Homo sapiens: one gene and its partner. The protein of the gene in region 1 interacts with the protein of each later gene in a pairwise test. Each region holds a gene or a part of one and is shown in the gene's direction. Other genes may lie near its edges.

Evidence for each region. The genes of interacting proteins can lie anywhere in the genome.
Region 2: the proteins of SYNJ2 (region 1) and ITSN2 interact in a two-hybrid assay, tested with the Homo sapiens proteins (2 studies listed by BioGRID and IntAct).

Annotation. Positions count from the first base shown.
Region 1 is NC_000006.12:157,984,467-157,992,297, forward strand, and holds part of SYNJ2 (synaptojanin-2), read left to right. Parts: intron 1-7,831. UniProt on the Homo sapiens protein: Inositol 5-phosphatase which may be involved in distinct membrane trafficking and signal transduction pathways. May mediate the inhibitory effect of Rac1 on endocytosis.
Region 2 is NC_000002.12:24,203,537-24,210,536, reverse strand, and holds part of ITSN2 (intersectin-2), read left to right. Parts: intron 1-503; coding exon 504-719; intron 720-1,315; coding exon 1,316-1,437; intron 1,438-2,217; coding exon 2,218-2,300; intron 2,301-4,261; coding exon of another isoform or gene 4,262-4,290; exon of another isoform or gene 4,291-4,293; intron 4,294-5,239; coding exon 5,240-5,323; intron 5,324-6,118; coding exon 6,119-6,292; intron 6,293-6,753; coding exon 6,754-6,911; 3' UTR 6,912-7,000.

The DNA of each region.
Region 1 (7,831 bases):
CGGCTGACTGCAACACCGCCACCCCCACCTGGGTTCAAGTGATTCTCCTGCCTCAGCCTCCCCAGTAGCTAGGATTACAGGCACACGCCACCATGCCTGGCTAATTTTTGTATTTTTAGTAGAGACGGGGTTGTGCCATTTTGGCCAGGCTGGTTTCTAACTCCTGACCTTAGGTGATCCACCTGCTTTGGCCTCCCAAAGTGCTAGGATTACAGGCGTGAGCCACCATGCCTGACCCGAGAAGGTGAATTTTTACAAGAAGGCTGCAATCTCTACTTTTGTATGGGACAGGACACTTGTGGCAGCTGGCGTAGCTGGTGGTCTAATCTTGACCTTTCACCCTTTCCTTGAAGTTCCGAGTCGGGGGTAGCTTCCTTTTCTCTTCAGCTGTGGTTTTCCTGTGATGGGTCCCTCCCAGTTAGTAATGAGAGGCTGAGAGACAAGTTGTGGTAACTGCTTCGTGGGTAGTGGTCTTTCCCGGCCCCTGAGTCATTCTAACTTCCATCCTGCTCCGCTGCGGATGCACATAGCTGCTTTCCTAGGGGCGAGAGGAGATGAGGGGACTGGGCCTGATGACCACAGGCGCTGCCCCTTCATAGCACATTTTATTCCTGAAGGATCCTAACTGGAAAAGTACCTCTCGCCGAAGGGGCTGGGTGGTTCCTTATCATTTTCAGGCAAGGCCTGGAGACAGGGGCTTGAACTGGGCTGTGATTTTTAGGAAAAACGGATGGTCCATGATTCGTTGATTGCTGGACTCCTTCCATCTGAACCTGTCTTCACCTGTCTTCACCTGTCCTGCTCTAAAGTGAACTCTTCACACTAGGGCCGTCTGGCCTGCTAGCAGGATTGTTGAAGGAATTATTCCAAATTCCTGCTTCTAAAAGAATTAGGTTGTGAATCTGAATCTGTCTTTTATGTAGATCAGTGGGAGCAAAAATTCCAGAGGCAGAAAAGCCAAATGTATTGGCACTGATTTAAAAGGCTTTTATGAAGTCTCGGGAACCTGACTGGAGGGTAGTTGGCCTTCTCAGCACAGGTGGGAAGCCCCGTAGCCGGTACCAGCATCCCTGGCCAACAATCCACAATTAGCAAACAGATGTTCCCTTATTTGCACATGGGACAAAAACCTACTCCTGTCTCTGTCTCTTGTAAACTTAGGGAAAAGTGCTTATTGTTAATGGATTTTGTGTATTTTCAGAGTAAGCGACAGTGTTCCAAAGTTCAAGGTTCTCCAACAGCCCCCAGGAACGGTGGCCTGAGGGTGTCCCTGTGTTTACAGTGCGGGCTGTGTGTGAGTGAAGTCGTGCCTCCTGCCGCCCAGCCGGGCTTTGCTGTGAACAGGCAGCAGGGAGGGAGGGATGGGGCAGGAGACTTGAGAGAATTAATTAAGTTAATTAATGGGTGTCCCTAAATTACTTTGAGCTTCTGGGGGGAAAGGTTCTGTGTAAACACCAGGCCCCCAGGTTCTCCCAGCTGCTGTTGTGCGAGGCCACGTCTCGAGTTTAGCTTTGTTTGAATTGGTGAGATGGCCCCAGGGCAGAGCAGGACTCAGTCTGAACTGTTGCCTAGATCACTTTCTCAGGCATTATGGCCAGATTTATTTGGTCACGGACTGGAATTTTGATCTGCTAGAGAGGACCACAGAGAATCAAATAAGTCACCATTTTATAAATGCTCCTGGACAAAGTTGAAACCACAGGTAGGACCAGGCAAGGGTTCCGGGGCCCCTGACGTGGGAAACTAGAGCAGCGACCCGGGACCACAGTGGTCTGTCTGCCTCCAGGACTGGTTTGCCTCCTCTCCTAGCCGGAGGCTGTCTCAGCGTAGTGTTTACAAAATGCAAACTGGGATGGTGTGTGCTTCTCCCGCGGGTTTTGTTTGTTTGTTTGAGACGGAGTCTCTTTGCCCAGCTGGAGTACAATGGCGCAATCTTGGCTCACTGCAACCCCCACCTCCCAGGTTCAAGGGATTCTCCTGCCTCAGCCTCCTGAGTAGCTGGGACTACAGGCATGCACCACCACGCCCGGCTAATATTTGTATTTTTAGTAGAGAAAGGGTTTCACCATGTTGGTCAGGCTGGTCTCAAACTCCTGGCCCCAAATGATCCGCCCACCTCAGCCTCTCAAAGTGCTGGGGTTACAGGCAATGAGCCACCACGCCCGGCCTTCCCCGTGATTTTTGTAGCTCACCTGTAAGATCGTGATTTCAAATCTTACCAGGCTCTTGTTTTGGCTGTGTGGCTCAAAAACTTGGCTTTTAGCCTTTAATTGTGAAAACGTTCAAACACAAAAGTAGAGGGAAAAATGAATCCCCTGTCTACCTGCCATTCGGCATTGATAGTTATCAATATATTGCCATTTTTATTTCACTTGTCCCTGTATTTTTTATGAAAACGTGAATCTCCTAAAATTTAGTTTGTTTAAAGCCAGGCAAGATTCTAATTTGTTGGGTTGGCTTTTTTTTTTTTCTTGCATTTAGATATAGAAGTTCAATTTTTTTATTTTATTGTAAATTGACAAATTATTATCGTTTTTTGAGATGGAGTCTTGCTCTGTCGCCCAGCTGGGAGTGCTGTGGCACAATCTTGGCTCACTGCAACCTCTTCCTCCCAGGTTCAAGTGATTCTCTGGCCTTAGCCTTCCGAGTAGCTGGGACTATAGGCGTGTGCTACCATGCCCGGCTAATTTTTGTATTTTTAGTAGAGATGGCATTTCACCATGTTGGCCAGGCTGGTATCGAACTCCTGACCTCAGGTGATCCACCCGCTTCGGCCTCCCAAAGTGCTGGGATTATAGGCGTGAGCCACTGTGCTAGGCCAACAGATTAGGATGATTATATATTATGGGGTACAAAGTGATCATATATGTGTACAATGTGGAATGATTAAATCAAGATGATTAACGTAGTCATCACCTCAAATACTTCTTTGTTTATTTATTTATCTTTTTTGAGGTGGAGTCTTGCTCTCTCACCCAGGCTGGAGTGCAGTGGCACCGATCTCGGCTCACTGTAACCTCCGCCTCCCAGGTTCAAGCGATTCTCCTGCCTCAGCCTCCTGAGTAGCTGGGACTACAGGCGCGTGCCATCACGTCCGGCTAATTTTTGTATTTTTAGTAGAGATGGGGTTTCGCCGTGTTGGCCAAGCTGGTCTCGAACTCCCGACTTCAAGTGATCCGCCCGCCTCGGCCTCCCAAAGTTCTGGGATTACAGACATGAGCCACTGCACCTGACCACTTATTGTTTGTAGGGAGAACATTTGAAATTTACTCTCCTAGTGATTTCAAAATATACATTATTATTAACTATAGTTACCATGCTATGCAAGTTCGAAATTTACTTGGCAGATTTCGTGTGGCCAGCAGCAGAAATGGTGGCATGAACTGATTCTGAGACATTGGCCAAGACACATTTTTAAAAGCAAAGTGACCACTTGGGAAGGGTCGACCACAGCCTGGAAGAACAGGGAGCGCTCTGCTGGTGAGCTCGGGAGGACAAGGTCTGGGCCCTTTGACGGCACTGCCTCTAGCCCCGGGCAAGAGAGGGCCGAGGGCCATGTCCAGTGGCCTCTATGCTCCCCTTTCTGGATGACATTCCTGCTGCTCAAGACCCTGGAGTGTGCTAAGCACATAGTGCAGCCTGCTCAGCCCCCTCCCAGGGCCTCAGGCAGACTGTGCAGCCGTATGTCCACCCCAGGCCCGGGCGTTGGGGTGGCAAGGGCATGTTACAGGTGGAACGGGACACACACTAGCTGGGACTCTGTGTGTGTATGCACGAGGCTCCCTGCAGGGGGGCATGAAGCCCAGGTTGGGGGAAGTCGGGGAAGAGAAGGTGGCCAGGCTGGGGCCGCCCTCCCCACTGGCTACATAATGAACCTGGCCTTCCAGGTAGTCACGGTGGCATACTTTTCGAGGTAGGAGGATAGAACCTATTTTATTTAACTGTTTTACTTTGTTAGCTTGATTTAAAACTGAACAGCTGGGCATACAGGATGCAGCACTCATGAGTACTCTGGCCCCAGACCCTACAGATATTCAGGCAGACCTGTCCTGGGCACCTGTCCCAGCCCGTGTCTCTCTGCTGTGTCTCTCTTCTGGAGCGTTCCTGGGGTGCTCAGGGTCCCCTTTGTGCTTTTTGGCTGCTCAGTTTCTGTTGCTGGGCTCCTTCGGCCTTCCCACTGAGGATGGGGAATATATTCTGTTTTCTTTCCACTTGAATTGTCCTTAAAGCCATGGGTAAACTGGTTCAGGCTCAGACTTGGGAATTTGATCGGAGTCCCTTTAGCATTTCTGGGCAGGGCTTGTTGGTGTCGTGGCCAGCTGTCCTCGAGGTGAAAACCAAATTGGGTTGGGAGGGTGCACATGACACTTAAAGCCCCCAGAGCTGCGGTGCCATCAACCACACACTGTGGACAGGAGGCTGTCAGTGGGCAGGCTGGGTCCACCTTCAAAGTCCATACGAAACAGCCCAGTTCAGGGTACTGCTTCTTTTCGAGATCTCACGGGCAGGAGCCTTCTGGCACTGTTCATGTAAATGTAAGTCATTCTTTCTTTCTGGAGGAAAATTTAGACAGGTGAATGAAAACCGGAGTGCTTAATCCGCTATTCTACATGCAGAAGTTTATCTCAGGAAACAGTCCCAGATCACTAGCCCATTTTGCTTCAAGGATGTTTATTGCAAGCTGTTTTGAGTTTTTCACTGGTTAAATAAACTTTGGTTCAACTTGATCATAATAGCTGACATTTGTGGAGTGTTTACCACCTACCAGGTGCTGATCCAAGTGGCTTACATTTATTAACTTACTTCATCCTTATGTCAAGGCAAGTACTAGTAATCTCCATTTTACACTTGGGGAAACTGAGGCACAAGAGGCCTAAGAACTTGCCTGAGGCTCCACCTCCAGTGGAAGGCTCCAGAGAACAATATGTTCAGTAAAATCTCATTCTTATGTAAAAAAATGAATATATATATATATATATATATATATATATATATATATATGGAAAAAGACTCCCTTTGTCCTGTTGTCTCTGGCTTATCTTGGTTTTCATCTGACATACACTTTTGATCGAGGAGGTTCCCACTTGGGGAAACAGCCAGCCCCTTTCTGAGCAGAGGGTGTGGCACTACAAAGGCGAAACATGATCTCTGGGAGAAACATGCTTGAAGCCCACGCTCCTGGGGGCAGAGCTGAGCCTCCACACGGATGTCCCCAGCACTGGGAGCAGAGGCTGATGCGGCCCCAAGGTGCTGAGGAAAGCGCCCCCCAGTGCAAAGGATGCTACAAGGCCCCAGGCTTCTCAAGGAACATGAGGCCTGGCAAACCCAGAACGTTAGACTGGGTCGGCTCCAAGATGCCCCTGGGTTTGAGCTGGAGAAGTGTCTGCGGGAGGGTGCTGGGGCTCCTGCAGAGCGTGTCTTCCTGACCCTGTGGGCTTTTCTGGGGGGGGCTAGGAGGCTCTGCCAAGTTGGTGGATGGAACTGTGCCTTGCCCTGGGGGGCACTGGGCAGGAGCCAGCCTCGGAGCGTGAGTCTGGTGCTGCGCCAGGAGGCTAGATGCCCCGGCCAGGTCCTGTGGGCTGCGCCGTCTGTGCCCTTGGCCCGCGAGGCTGGCAGGCTGCCACTGCTTGTAAAGCCTCCTGGTTGAAAAGGTGACTCGGAGCAGCGGATTCACTGGGAGCCTGTCAGCCACAGAGGCAGCTTGTGCTTGTGCCCCAGGCCCAGGCCGCAGGAGGTGGGATCAAGTTCCACGGCTCCAGTGTGAAGGTCTGAGCTTCATTCTAAGGCAGGTTTTTGAGGACATGGGGCTCTCGGGCACCTGGTTGTATTCCTGCATCCTGCATTCCTGCCCACTCTCTCATGCCTTCTTCTCCTTCTCCTTGGCGTGCCCCAAGCCAGCCTTCCATCTCAGATGGAGTTGTATGTTTCTAGTGAGCCCACACACCCCCTGAGGACAGGGCCTCACCCCCGCACGCCTGCTTCTTCATCACAGCTGCTAGGAAATGAAGATGCATGTCCCCAGGGGCCTTTGAAGTAGGATGTGGTCTCCCTGAGCAGAACTCTGACTCTAAATTCTCTCCTGGCTCTGGCGTTGGTGTGGGACTTGGGTTGCGGGAGGGGGCAGGTTGTTAGCGGCTGCTGCTCAGACCCAGCGGAGGACCGGGCTGCTCCAGGCTCCCGGCAAGATGTAGCAAAATGGCCAAATTTAAGGTGAGCACGGGCTCCCGTGCAGTTTCTCACCCCTGCTGCTGGCTGCCTGTCTGTGAATGCTAAGGCGAGGGGTGGTTCTACATTGACTTCTTACTGACTGGTGGGAGTAACCCGGAAGAGGCAAATGACTTCCTTCCCTTTCCTCGGCTCTGAACCTAGAATGTTCCAGTGATACCACCTCCAAACTCTTCACCTGTGTCCTTTCCCACCTCTCTGCCCTGAGGACAGGGAACTAAGTGGCTGCTCACGGTGGGTAAAACTGAGGCTTACAAGACACCTTGGGCAATGGGACAGCCAGACCCCAGCCCTCAGCACCTGCCTCTCCCATCCCAAGCCCCAGTCTCTTTTTCAGCTGCAAAGTCAATACCTTTGCTTTCAGAGAGGGAGCATGTGCCACGCCAGGAGAGGCTTTGGGTGTATCACAGATGGAGACTGCCTAGCTTAACTGCGCAGTCTGAATGATTCTAAGGAGGGGAAGAGAGAACGCCTCTGGAGCCTGGCACACACATTTGCCGGAGAAAGTGGTGAGTGCGTTGTGACCAGGTGAGGGACGAACCTTAAGGAGATTGGCTGAGAACACCTCCCCTCCTCACCCTAAGTCAACAAACCCGGGACAGCAGTGCTTCCAAAACCTTACTTGTTCACCTCACCTGGAGATTCTTGTGGCAAATCGGGTTCTGCCTCGTTGGCTCTGGGGTGGGCCTTGAGAGCCTGCCGTTCTAACAAGCTCCCAGGTGATGCTGATCCACGACCAGCTTTGAGTACCAGGATCTCGCATCAGCTTGGGAGGGAGGAGACCTGAATCCTAGCCCTGGCTCCTTAGGCTCTTCTTTCCAGTGGGGGAATTTAGTTAATTGCTCCGGGCCCCAATATCTTAATCTGAAAACAAATGAATGACAACCTAGTTGCCTTTCCTACTCTGAGATTCCATGCGTCTTAAAAGAAAAAAGTTTTAAAACTAAACATGTCACTGTCACCATCGCTACTTCACACACCTAAAGTTATAAACCACTCAGAAATGCAAATCTTAGGAGATGTGATCTGGCAAGGCAAAATCGAAGATGGCTTTGAGGTCTCAGCTAAACCTAGAAATCTGATGCTCTGCATTTTTTATGGGATGCTTATGAATTAATGAAAATACATGAGATTATCTCTCCTTGAGTCTACCCTTTCCTACAACCAGCAAAAACTTATAAAAAGCAATTGAAGCTTACTTTGGGAATGCCAAGGGATTGATTAAAATATGGACTGTGCTGATTCCATGGCTGGTTTAGCAGATTCTTGTTAAAAGCCATGACTTTTTAAAATTTTTATTTTTTTGTGGGTACATAGTAGGTATATATATTTATGGGATACATGAGATATTTTGATACAGGCATGTAATATGTAATAACCACATCATGGAAAATGGGGCATCCATCCCCTCACACATTTATCTTTTGTGTTACAAACCAATTATACTCTTTTAGTTATTTTAAAATGTACAGTTAAATTATATAGTCACCATGTTGTGCTATCAAGTACCAGTTCTTATTCATTCCTTTTATTTTTATTTGTTTTACTCATTAACCATCCCCACCTCCTCCCTAGACCCCCGCCGCTACCCTTCCTAGCCTCTGGT
Region 2 (7,000 bases), on another chromosome or scaffold:
GGGTTGGAGCGATTCTCTGGCCTCCATCTCCCAAGTAGCTGGGACTACAGGCATCTGCTACGATGCCCAGCTAATTTTCGTATTTTTAGTAGAGCTGGGGTTTCACCATGTTGGCCAGGCTGGTCTTGAACTCCTGGCGTCAAGTGATCCTCCCGCCTCTGTCTCCCAACAGTGCTGGGATTGCAGGCATGAAGGGCATTCCTTCTTGGATTGTCATCTTCCTTTCTCCTAAGGAGAGAACACTGGGATTTTTTGTTTTGAGTTCTTTGAATTCAGCTGGTAGAATCAGTGTTCTGTGGCTAGAAGTAATGATTTTCACTGGGCCAGTTTGGACTCTGAAGAGTAATGTATTTAAGGATCTTTCATGCAAAGTGAATGATTCTAGCCACATTCCCACCTAGAAAACTCCACCACAGTATCCTCAGGCCCAGGGCACTGGCCTCTCAGGGGCACTGGATGGTTTGTGCCGGGATTTAAAAAGTGAAATTTTCTTTCTCTTTAAGCAACTTATTTTCAACTCTCTCACCAACTGCCTGGGGCCCCGGAAGCTCTTACACAGTGGGAAATTATACAAGACCAAGAGCAACAAGGAACTGCACGGATTCCTCTTCAATGACTTCCTGCTTCTTACCTACATGGTCAAGCAGTTTGCTGTTTCCTCTGGCTCTGAGAAACTTTTCAGCTCGAAGTCCAATGCTCAATTCAAAATGTATAAAACGGTGAGTATCACGCGTCTGGGGGTAGCATCAGGGGCCTAATGAGGTGTTGCCTCTATCTTAAGGCCTTCCTGGCAGACCCTGAGCTGGCCTTACGGGACCCTCCTCACCTGGTTCCAGATCGCTCGTGCTTCCTTTGCTGCTTCCCACGGGAAGGGCCCCATGCAGCTGGGCACTCCCCACCTGCCACAGGCCATCAGCCAGATTCCAGCTGAGATTCTGGCTTCCTCCTGGCCAGCGTGACACCTGGGCTCACCACTGTGTGCATTCAGCATTGGGTCTCTGTAAGCCGAGCCCCAGCACAGCACCAGCGTTGCTAGCAGAGAGCCTTTTGCACCAGCCGTCATGGGCGCTTGGAGCTCCTGTCCCCACCCAGTCCCAACACCTGACCCACCTCGATAATGACTTTTCCAGAAATGGAGGCTTCATTGTTCTTACAAATGGAGGTTTCATTTGTTCTGTGTAGAAGACCTTAGACGCTAGACCCCTTTCTCCTTCTCAACAAGGCTCTTCAGAACAAACAGAACTCTCTCTGGACATAGGCGGGTGGAGTGTTCTAGCCCATCTCACAGCCTGTGTTTTGGCCCTAATTCTTTCAGCCCATTTTCCTGAATGAAGTCTTGGTGAAACTGCCCACAGACCCTTCCAGCGATGAGCCTGTCTTCCACATTTCCCACATTGATCGGGTCTACACCCTCCGAACAGACAACATTAATGAGAGGTCAGTCCTGACCATGTGTGGCCTGCCTTGAACTCTGGGAGAAGGCCTGGACGTCTCCCTCTGCCATAAACCCATCTCCAGCCGTGCTTAAGCCCCACTAATTCTGTATCCTGAACCTCTCTTAACACATCCCCTCTGCTCCAGTCCCATGGTAGGCCTTGGTCACTGCAGCTGCCTCCTAACATGCTTCCCGGCTTCTAGTCTCTCCCCACACCACTCAGCAGCCTTCCCAAATGGCAGATCAGCACCTGAGGCCCTGCTACAGTCCCTGCAGGGGCTGCCCGCAGGCGACAGCCCACTGTGCTTTGCTGGTTTCCGAGGCCTCCTTGGGCCACAGGCCTCAGCCCTCGTCCCTCCACCTGCAGACTTTCGCCCCTCAGGCGCCCTTGTGTGGGTGCCATCCCCGCTGTTCCCAGCTTCCTTCAGGCTGCAGCTCCAACAGTGCCTCCGCGGCGCCAACCCGGGGGGTGCTGCTGCTCCTCTGTGTGCGCTAGAACCCCTCGTGACAGGTATCATCCGTGGGGCCAATGCATCATCTGTCTCCAGGTCCCAGCGCCTTGCGAGTGCCTGGCATTTTGTGGTCAGCCAAGAAGGGTCACTACCAGCTCTCATACTCCATTAGCATAAGCATCTTTCAGTTGACTAATATCAGGTCTTTGATAGGAAACTTGTGAAAGTTGAGGTTAGCAAAAGACTGAAGAACATGTGCAGAGCTCTGGGGCTCCACGCTGACCTGTGAGGGTGGGATGCGGCCAACGGCTGCCCCTGCTTCTCCCGTAGGACCGCCTGGGTGCAGAAGATCAAGGCGGCGTCTGAGCAGTACATCGACACCGAGAAGAAGAAGCGTGAGAAAGCTTACCAAGGTATCAGGGTGCCCGGAGGGTGGGACGCAGCCCCCAGGGGCCCTAGGAATGCCGGCCACTGCTCCTGCAGTCAGGCTGATGATATAGGGACGGGTCTGAAAGACCAGACCTGCTGCGGGATCAGACCAGAGAGCCCTCCCCTCTTGAAGCTACTACTGCAAACCTCCCTGGGGCTCCTGCCCACACAGACACGGGCTGGCAGTGCCAGCTCCGGGACCTCCCTCTCTGCACCACCTCTATCCCCCCCACTCCACTGCACCTTCTCCACTCCTTTCTCTCCATGACTCACCTCACCTCTGCTTGGGCTGTGGTGCTCCATTACATGCCACACCTGTGGTCTGTCTCCCTTCAGCTCCTGAGCAGCCACTGCTCCTCCTCACCCTCCTCTAGGGCCTGCCATCCACCCTCTCCCTTTGCAGCCAGGGGGCCTAGACCCTAAGTCTGCCCTCTCCCCATCCTTCTGCCCCTGCCTCCTCCCCCTTCTCACTTCACCAGACTTCAGTCCACGTCCTGTCCCCACCAGTGACACCAGTGGCCTAGTTAGTGGCTCAGCTCACTTTCCCTGCCCCAGCTCCCTGCACTGATGGCAGTCACTGAGGCGCTGCCTTCCCTCTGGACCCCATGGCCGCCTTCCCAGTTCTTCTTCCACCCTTGCCCAGGCCTCTCCCCGACCTCTGTAGCGCTCTCCCTCGGGGACCCCACCGACCCCCAGCTTCAGGGTCAGGCTAGCCACACTCTCCCAAGCCCGCGCCTCTGAACAGCACCCTCCAGAGAACCACCTGCCCCGCTGCTCCCACATCACACATCGGCTTTTCCCAAGGGACCACCAGCCTCCTTCCAGCAGCAGCTCCTCCTGGGACCCTCTGTGGACAGTAGTGTGGTCCCTGGCCACCCAGGCCCCTCCCTGGCACCTCACACCTGGTCAGCTGCACTGCAGTCCTCCTCCCTCGCCACTTTCCCATCGCCCTTTCCTGTCCCCGTATCACAGGCCCCCGATCTCCCACCCAGGCTGCAGCACAAGGCTCTCTTTCCTCTCTGCCACCCATCCTCTTCATTTCTGGAGTATTCTTTTTTCCAGAGCTGCTCTTATACCTCTTCCTGCTGAAGTATCTTCCCTATTGCCTCCCAAATTAACGACACATTTCTTACCCCACACTCAGGGCCCATCCCCACTACTACCTGCCACCCAGCCCCATCCCTAGCTCTTTCCTGTGCCCGGCCCATCCAGCTGCCTAGTTGAGCAGCCCATTGTTGCCCTGCCTGGCCTTCCCATGTGAGCTCCCCCTCCAGCTCAAGTGCTCTGCCCTCACCTTAAATTCTTCCCATCCTTCAAGGCCCACGTCAAACACAGCCTCCTCCATGACACCCTCTTGCCCTAACCAGTGTGACTTCTACCTGGACCCCCCGCTGTCCTGAGGCTGCGATCATCCTCCGGGCGCTCATCCTCTGTTGCCTCTGCTTGCGCCCTCTCAGTCCCTGCTTTTCTCACTTAATGGCCATAAGCTCCCTCAAGGCAACTCCCTCCCACATCGGGGCCAGCATGTGACTTATGCCAGTGGGGCTCCAGATTTGTTGCACCGGTGATGTCCTCTGTGTTCATGGCACAGATCACTCACCTGCTCAGTGGAGCCGCAATGGTCTTTGTAAAGCACCCCCCACCCCACCCTGCCCCACCGTGGCCTTCAGACCAGAGCTCCCACATTCTTCTCCAGCCTCCACATGAATGCCAGGCCCCAACCTCCCTGCTGCATCTCCAGCTGTGCCAGGCCAGCCTGTGGCCTCCACCCCACAGGGGGCCTGTGCTCTGAGCCAGCTGCATCTCCACCTTCCTCCCCGCCGGCCCCCTGCATCTCCACCTTCCTTCCCGCCGGGCCCCCCCATGCAGCCTGCCCTCCTGCCTGGGCCTCCCACCAGCTTCCTGGCTGCTATAGTTGCAGCTCTTTATGTGTTTTTTTATTCAGGTTTCCCCCATTTTGTTATATACTCCTAAAAGGTATGTTTAAAACAGCTTTTGCTAATTTAGTGTTATTTTAATGGTACTTTAAAAGCTTGCTGTTGAAAAATCAATGATTGATCATTTCATAACGCATATGATCTCTTAATTGGCCAAAGATGTCAATCCGGTTTTTCTGCCTGAGTTTTGCTTCCCATCAGCATCTGCATATGTTGCTGTGCATCGTCCGTGCGTTCAGTCCTTCCCACATTTGTCAATTACTTTGTGCCAGGCTCTGTGCTAGGCTTAACTGAGCCTGGACTTTGGTATCTGATGTTTAAATGTTGACCCTGCCATTTAGCAGCTCTGAGTGGATCACACTCCAGTCCTTTCTAAGCCTCAGTGTTTCTCATCAGTAAAATGGGGAGCTACATTATCAGGTAATTATGCAGTTTAAATAATATAATTTACATAAGTCTAGCACATGCCTAACACAAAGTAAGTATCCAGTAAATGTTAGCTGCTATTAAGTGCTGCACAAATACCATGTATTATTTTATTAATATTACTATTTGCTAGGCAATTGAGGGGTTAATATAAGGATGATCGAAACAGTCCATGCTCTACCCTGGCTCCTGTCTGGCAGAGGAGACAGACATTACACACGATTTCAGACCCAGCAGGCTGTGGGCTGCTCATAAGCGAGGGATACTGGATGCAGAGGAGGGAAGGGATCTGGGAGGTAGATGTGGGATCAGACCTGCATCTTGAAGGATGAGTAGGATGCTGACGGGCAGAGAAAGCAGGCAGGGCAGAAAGAGCAAGCAGGGGCTTCCTAGCAGGCAACACAGCCTGGGGAAAGGCACAGGGCAGCCAGATGCTGGGCTGTTGGGCCCAGGGCAGTGGCAGATGGGGACAGGGAGCCGGTAGTGTTATGGTTGGTTTGAAAGACAGGGTCTGCATCCTTGGAGAAGAGATTAATGAGACTTGTCTTCCTCTTTTGTAGCCCGCTCCCAAAAGACTTCAGGCATTGGGCGCCTGATGGTGCATGTCATTGAAGCTACAGAATTAAAAGCCTGCAAACCAAATGGTAAATACTGCCTTGATTCATTCAGCAGACATAACTGCCCTGCCCCAGTTTTTGCTGATGACTTTTTGAGACAGAGTCTCAGTGTATAACCTAGGCTGGAGTGCAGTGGCACGATCTTGGCTCACTGCAACCTCTGCCTCTGGGGTACAAGTGATTCTCAAGGCTTAGCCTCCTGAGTAGCTGGGATTACAGGTGTGCACCACCACGCCTGGCAAATTCTTGTATTTTTAGTAGACACAGGGTTTCACCATGTTGGCCAGGCTGGTCTCGAACTCCTGACCTCAAGTGATCTGCCCGCCTCGGCCTCCCAAAGTGCTGGGATTACAGCACTTTGTCACTGACAAAGTGCCACTGCGCCCAGCCACTGATGACTCTTCTGAACACTGAATAAAGGAATGCTTTCTAACAGTGTGTCCAGTGCCACTAAAATGCGCATATTGGACCAATATTCTTATCACTGTTTTCCCAGTAAGTGCCAGTGCCCGCCTTCCCGAGTGTGTCTGCGCCGAGGAAGCATGCAGCAGGTTGCAGTGACACTCACCCAGGATTGTTCCGTGCGGAGTGGTCCTGGCGGTGGAGCTCTCGGCCACTCCCCAGTTAATGCTGCTGTCAGCACTGGGAACTTGGAGACCCTGTTACTAGACCACAGGGATATGGTGCCCCAGGCAGCGGCTCCTGCTGCCATGGTCTCGAGTGACCCATTATTGGAATCCTGCTTCTGCTCAGGGAGGGCACTGTCAGTCGCTTCGTTTTACCTGCATGCACCACATGTGTCTGTGGTTTGTTTTTGTTCAGGAAAGAGCAACCCATACTGTGAAATCAGCATGGGCTCCCAGAGCTACACCACCAGGACCATCCAGGACACACTCAATCCCAAGTGGAATTTTAACTGCCAGTTCTTTATTAAGGATCTCTACCAAGACGTGCTGTGTCTCACCCTGTTTGACAGAGACCAGTTTTCACCAGATGGTAAGTGTCGCTCAGCCAGGGGATCTAAAGGCTTTCCCAGTTTCCTAGATCCTGGAGTCCAGATCTAGGGGCTTCAGCTGTGTGCAGACCCCATGCCACTTCAGGGAAGTGACACAGGCCTGTGTCATCTCGCTTTGGCAGCAGGTGGGTGGCCTTCCTCAGGGGAGGAGGTGGCCTGAGATGTGTTTCAGGTCTTTGACCCATCACTCCCTACACACACGACGTGAACACCACTCCTGGAGCATTCTCAGAATGGAGATTTGAATTCCATGTGGCAGCTTCTCACACACAAACCTGCCATCATTCCCCACACACCCACTCACGACATTCAACAGCCATGAGCCAAAAGAAGTTCCTTGTTTCAGATTTGAAGGTTTTATGAATCCACTTCTTCCGGATGTAGCTCTTTAATGATTTTATAAAGAAGAAAGACTTCTGACTCTCCTGTGTTTATTCACCAGATTTCCTGGGTCGTACTGAAATTCCAGTGGCAAAAATTCGAACAGAACAGGAAAGCAAAGGCCCTATGACCCGCCGACTGCTGCTGCATGAGGTCCCCACCGGGGAGGTCTGGGTCCGTTTTGACCTGCAGCTTTTTGAGCAAAAAACTCTCCTGTAGGGGTTCTAAAGGACAGCACCAGCGGGACAGCCCACAAGGCTGGGGCTGGAGAATGAGAGACTGCGCTCTCTTGGGGCTGAGGGAGCACC